Linked DNA regions of Homo sapiens. The protein of the gene in region 1 purifies or fractionates together with the protein of each later gene. This does not show direct contact. Each region holds a gene or a part of one and is shown on either strand. Other genes may lie near its edges. The genes, in order: CD36 and MATK.

Region 1 (3,457 bases):
TATGACTCATATTTCTCTATGAATACCTTCATACAGCAGGTATAACTCTTTTCTTTATGGGCTTAAATATTTTGTCACTGATCCTGCAAATGGACATCATTTTAGCACACTAGCGGTTTATATTTTAAGGACCTTCATTCTCTGTTCTGCACCTCTTCTGGAAATTGAGTAAATTTTGCTTTTTTTTTTTTACTCAGTTGCAACTTACGCTTGGCATCTTCAGAATGCTTTTCTAGCATTAAGAGATGTAAATGATAAAGGAATTATTGTATGAAATATTACAAAGCGTAGACTATGCATTGTTATTCATTATAATATTTTTTGCTGTCATAATCGCCTCATAAAGACAGGTTTCAACCATTAAAATATGTTCTTCCTTAAATTCCTGTGCTTTTTCTAGTTCCTCTTGTGTCATAAAATGTTTATCCTAATTTTCTCTCTGAAGTATATTTTATCTGAATCCACATTTCTTTATAAATCCATAGTCCTTGCTGAAATATGCTTTCTAAATTTCTACCACTTTGTTCTAGGCTAATTTTTTAAGCTAATTGGATGAAGAACAAAAAGACATTTGGTTTCATCCTTTACAGCAGTAGGACAATTGCAAAGGTTTTTCCTTTTTCATAAGGAGACACATTAATAGGTAACTCTGTTTCTTGAGCAGGGGTTCACTTATTCTGAGAGCATTAGTTCTCCTAAAAAGCTCCAGCATAGAAAGGGAAGATAAACCAAATTCTAGCTTGTGTTTTACCCACAGAAGGATACAGGACAAAGGAATAGTAACTGGCCTGTTTGGATACTAAAATCGAAAATAACTTTTAGCCTCCTCCTTATGATAGCCGCCAGAGTAAATGTTGAGCATTACTACAGAAAAGCCACAAACCAAGAATCTACCTGTTTGGAAAGATCTTTTGCATCTCTGAAGGTGCTTAAAGCATACTTAGTGCCTTTCCTTTTAACTGGGAAGATAAAAGAAGTATCTGTCCAAGATATTAATATGTAAGATAACATTGTAGACATGTTCTTCTGATAATACAAGGTTTATTCTATTTGCATTAGGATATTTGTGGACATGTCCATCTAATATAAAGGAAAGTTTTTTAATCATTGAGGCATGTAGGGCTGAGTTATATAATGTAGAAACTTCTAAAGATAATTGGATGAGAATATACATATTGACCTGTATATTATGACTAATCATGACTCAGATCTTAATACAGGGATGATCTCATAGCATTTAGATATCAGAAAAGGTTTTGACCTATATGTCTTTAATATTGTTTGAATACATGTATAATCTTTATCATTCCTCAGTGTTTCATTTCTCAAATTCTGTAAAAGGAATATAAGAGGAAAGACAATTCATATACAAAGACAACGAGATTAAAAATATGCAGTAGGAAAAATAATTACTTAAGGGGAGATTTTTTTTACATGAAATCTGGGCTTTGGATGTGTGTGTGTGTGTGTGTGTGTGTGTGTGTGCACATATGCACTGTGGTGGGAGTGGGGCAACTTGGGGAATATGTTACATGTGTGACTTTGTTTTGCCCTGGCGAAGTTAATGTTGTTCAGAAAGGGTAAATGTTTGGACACTTGCAATTGCTCATGGATGAATTTATATGTTTTAGTCATAGAAAAATTGTACCCTTTGATAGAAGCACATTTTCTTTCCAAAGCTGGTTATTAACCACAGAATTATAGCAGGTATTCATAACTTAAGTTTGAAAATCAATAGCGTCTGCAAATGGATTAACAGATTAGAGAATCAACAGCATCGGAAAATAGGTTAATGCATATTGCTTCTAACAAGTGCATGAAGAAATAGAAGAAGCTATGTAGCTTTCAGTTCTGACAGAAAAGGGTGAAGGAGGGTATCATTTCAAGAAAAAAAATAGCTATCACGCAATGGTTATCTCTGAAAATATTTGTATTAAGATGTGTATACATGGCCAGGCATGGTGGCTCATGCCTGTAATCCCAGCACTTTGGGAGGCAGGTGGATCACGAGGTCAGGAGATCAAGACCATCCTGGCCAACATGGTGAAACCTCATCTCTACTAAAAATACAAAAATGAGCGGGGTGTGGTGGCCCATGCCTGTAGTCCCAGCTGCTCGGGAGACTGAATCTCTTGAGCCTGGGAAGCAGAGGTTGCAGTGAACTGAGATCGCGTCACTGCACTCCAGCCTGGTGACAGAGCGAGATTCCATCTCAAAAAAAAAAAACAGTATGCACGTACAAATTTCTTAACCTGTTATCAATGTCTGAGCTACATAATTATCTTTCTAGTTGGAGTTTGTTTTAGGTGTGTACCAACTGACATTTCAGTTTTTCTGTTTGAAGTCCAATGTATTAGTGACTCTGTGGCTGCTCTCTTCACCTGCCCCTTGTGGCCTGTCTACAATTCTAAATGGATTTTGAACTCAATGTCGTCGCTTCTGGTTTCCTGCATATACCAATAGCATTACCTATGACTTTTTTTTTCCTGAGCTATTTTCACTGAGCTGAGCTAATGAACTAAAACTGAGTTATGTTTAATATTTGTATCAAATACATAAAAGGAATACTGCTTTTTCCTTTTGTGGCTCAAAGGTAGCTGCATTTTAAAATATTTGTGAAAATAAAAACTTTTGTTATTAGAAAAATGATTTTGCTTATTTTTATTTTTGAATGTAGTTGACTTCCATATTGTTTGATATTGTTACTATAGTTTTATATGAGCTATTATCCTTTCATGACTTATTTACATATCACTCCTATTTCCTTTTTCCAACTGTTCCCAGATGCTAGTAGTACAATCTACACATTGCAAAACGTTTCATTCTGCATACTCATGAAGGGGGCTGTGACATAGGATAAATATAAATATTTTAAAATTTTCCTTTAATTACATGAATCTTAGACAAACAGCCTCAACATCACCTGGGAACTTGTTAAAAATGCAGAATCTCTGGTTCTACCTCAGACCCACTGAATCAGAATCCACAGTTTAACAGGATCTTTAAGAAATTCATAGACACTCGAAATTTTGGAAAAGCCCTGATTTAAGTCACTGAAGTTTGACTAGCTGTAAGAGTTTTATTTGACCTGTTGCTGGTATTAGTTTGATGTATTAACAGAAGGACATAAACATACTGAGATGAGGGGGAAGTTCATCAGACCTGAAAATGTTGCTATAAATATCCCACTAAGTTTTATAATTTGCCCTGTTGAGCTTGTAAATATTTTCAAACAGTAATAAAGCTAATCTATATGGCAGAGTAGAGGGTGAAGTGGTATTAAACTTTATACTCCTTTGATTTGCTGGAATGTGTTATTTGATCTACTTGACAGTATTAACGACAAATATATATACTGCATGTAAAGTAATGAATAGGTTAGGAGCAGATAAGGGATACTAAAATTGGAGACAGGTCCTAGACTTTATCTGATATAAAAATTATTCATCTGAATAAA
Region 2 (3,279 bases), on another chromosome or scaffold:
ACGAGGTCATGAGATCGAGACCATCCTGGCTAACATGGTGAAACCCCATCTCTACTAAAAAAAAAAAAAAAAAAAATTAGCCGGGCGTGGTGGTGGGCGCCTGTAGTCCCAGCTACTTGGGAGGCTGAGGCAGGAGAATGGCGTGACCTGGGAGGCAGAGCTTGCAGTGAGCAGAGATGGCGCCACTGCACTCCAGCCTGGGCGACAGAGCAAGACTCCGTCTCAAATAAATAATTAATTAATTAAAAATAAAAATGCAAAAAACATTTTGAGCTGAAGGGTCTTGCAAAAAGAGGTGATAGGTAGATTTGGCCCCGAGGGGGTGGGGGTTCACAGACCCCTGGCTTAGATGGTTCTCTCTTTGTTTTTGTTTTTTGTGGGGTTTTTTTTGAGATGGAGTTTCGCTCTGTCACCCAGGCTGGAGTGCAATGGCACAATCTTGGCTCACTGCAACCTCTGCCTCCCGGGTTCAAGTGATTCTCCTGCCTCAGCCTCCCGAGTAGCTGGGATTACAGGCATGTGCCACCACACCTGGCTAGTTTTGTATTTTCATTAGAGACAGGGTTTCTCCATGTTAGTCGGGCTGGTCTTGAACTCCTGACCTCAGGTGATCCGCCTGCCTCAGCCTCCCAAAGTGCTGGGATTACAGGCGTGAGCCACCGCGCCAGAGCCAGATGGTTCTCTGATCTTGGGTCTGGAGCTTGCAAGGGCGGCAGGGGTGAGGAGCATGGGGTCTGTGTTTCAAGGTCTGGGGACCCGCAGCTGTGTGAATGTTACATGGGCACCGGTGTGAGCGGGCCTGTCCGTCTGTCTCTCTGTCCCTGTTTGTTGGGGGTCCTGATCTCACCCCGTTCCCCACCCCCACCCCCCAGCTGTCCTGCAGGGTGAGTACCTGGGGCAAAAGGTGGCCGTGAAGAATATCAAGTGTGATGTGACAGCCCAGGCCTTCCTGGACGAGACGGCCGTCATGACGTGAGTCCCAGGGTGGGGCTGGGGACCGTGGGACGGGGGGGGTCCCAGCCCTGCCCTCACGCCCACCCCACCGCCCCCAGGAAGATGCAACACGAGAACCTGGTGCGTCTCCTGGGCGTGATCCTGCACCAGGGGCTGTACATTGTCATGGAGCACGTGAGCAAGGTGGGGCGGGGCCCAGGCGGGGAGGGGGCCCACGCAGCGGAGCAGCCCCAACATCCCGCGGCCATCTCCCACCCCCAACAGGGCAACCTGGTGAACTTTCTGCGGACCCGGGGTCGAGCCCTCGTGAACACCGCTCAGCTCCTGCAGTTTTCTCTGTAAGTGGGACTCTCAGGGTGCTGCGGCACTGGGGTCGTCGGGGCGCAGATTCCAAGATCCATCAAGGGGAAACTGAGGCACGGGGCAGGGAGGCTTTGTGAGCTTGTGGCCCCAGGCACCCCGAGCTTTCTGAGCCCTGAATGTGGGCATCCTGGCACCTGAGCCCCCACTGCCCCCTACTACCCCCAGGCACGTGGCCGAGGGCATGGAGTACCTGGAGAGCAAGAAGCTTGTGCACCGCGACCTGGCCGCCCGCAACATCCTGGTCTCAGAGGACCTGGTGGCCAAGGTCAGCGACTTTGGCCTGGCCAAAGCCGAGCGGAAGGGGCTAGACTCAAGCCGGCTGCCCGTCAAGTGGACGGCGCCCGAGGCTCTCAAACACGGGGTGAGCCCTGCCTTCACATACCCCTGGGGCTTTGGGGTCCCCCCAGCTCTGCTGTATGACCCTGGGTATGTCCCTTGGCCTCTCTGAAACTCCAAGGGCAATGGCTATGCCTCCCCAGGAAGCTCTTGGCCCATAATTGTTCCTCGTAGCCCCCCTCTGGGCCTCAGTTTCTCCAGCTCTGAAAAAGGCGTGGGCTCAGGACTGAAGGGAAGAATAACCAGGCTTCCTTCATGCACTAAGGCTGAGCTAGACTCAACTGCGGGCGGCGTTGGGGGAGGACTCAATTAGGAGAAGACCAGAGAGTGAGGGTCAACCCAGGAGGGCTTCCTGGAGGAAGCAGGGGCTGGAGCAGAAAACCTGAGGGGTCCCTCCTCACCCCCGTCTCGGGCCCCACAGAAGTTCACCAGCAAGTCGGATGTCTGGAGTTTTGGGGTGCTGCTCTGGGAGGTCTTCTCATATGGACGGGCTCCGTACCCTAAAATGGTGAGCGGGGGTCCCAGGGAGGCACTGGGTTCCGGGCAGGTCCAGAGGCTGTGGCCCTGACCCCTGCCCACGCCTGCTGTCCGCAGTCACTGAAAGAGGTGTCGGAGGCCGTGGAGAAGGGGTACCGCATGGAACCCCCCGAGGGCTGTCCAGGCCCCGTGCACGTCCTCATGAGCAGCTGCTGGGAGGCAGAGCCCGCCCGCCGGCCACCCTTCCGCAAACTGGCCGAGAAGCTGGCCCGGGAGCTACGCAGTGCAGGTGCCCCAGCCTCCGTCTCAGGGCAGGACGCCGACGGCTCCACCTCGCCCCGAAGCCAGGAGCCCTGACCCCACCCGGTGGGGCCCTTGGCCCCAGAGGACCGAGAGAGTGGAGAGTGCGGCGTGGGGGCACTGACCAGGCCCAAGGAGGGTCCAGGCGGGCAAGTCATCCTCCTGGTGCCCACAGCAGGGGCTGGCCCACGTAGGGGGCTCTGGGCGGCCCGTGGACACCCCAGACCTGCGAAGGATGATCGCCCGATAAAGACGGATTCTAAGGACTCTAGGCGCCTGTGTGTCTCTGTGTCCCCGTGCCCTCTTCCCCGGGGGCCACCTTTGGTGATCTGCTCTCGGACACCCCCAGGCGCCAGGCATCCTGGGTCCTCCCTTAGAGGTCCACCCCCCCTAGATGCCCTGTGTGCCCCAGCCCCAGTGGTCACCTTCCTACTCTGTGGAACCCACTGCAGCCCACATGATGGGATCAATTAATTGGGACCCCACTGATCCTTGGCCGAGTCTTGGGCACCCACCGGCCCCAAGCCCCTGCCTCCTGTGGCCACATGCCTGCACACGGGGGCCTCCCCATCTTGGCCCATGGAGGATCTGCCCAGCTGGCACCTGCCTGCTGGCCACTGTGGGGACACCGTTCCCTGGGGGATTCTGGGCAGGGGACCCACTTGCCATTACCCACGGGTTCCCCACTGCAGTCCCCCAGGGCATGTGGTATTCAGTGGTGGGCACCCTTTCCCAACCCATGGGGTCCCAGGCTTAAAGGATCTTGGGAGGCTGCCAACAGCCCTCAAGGTCCAAGTCTCCCCTCCCACCACAGCCCTTTCTCAGGCCCCAGCCATCCATATCCCTATG

The links.
Region 2: the proteins of CD36 (region 1) and MATK purify together in Homo sapiens (affinity purification with western blotting, with the first as the bait; one study listed by BioGRID). This does not show direct contact.

Annotation. Positions count from the first base shown.
Region 1 is NC_000007.14:80,676,629-80,680,085, forward strand, and holds the end of CD36 (platelet glycoprotein 4), read left to right. Parts: 3' UTR 1-2,646; downstream 2,647-3,457.
Region 2 is NC_000019.10:3,777,391-3,780,669, reverse strand, and holds the end of MATK (megakaryocyte-associated tyrosine-protein kinase), read left to right. Parts: intron 1-872; coding exon 873-972; intron 973-1,052; coding exon 1,053-1,137; intron 1,138-1,218; coding exon 1,219-1,292; intron 1,293-1,482; coding exon 1,483-1,678; intron 1,679-2,074; coding exon 2,075-2,161; intron 2,162-2,247; coding exon 2,248-2,487; 3' UTR 2,488-2,697; downstream 2,698-3,279.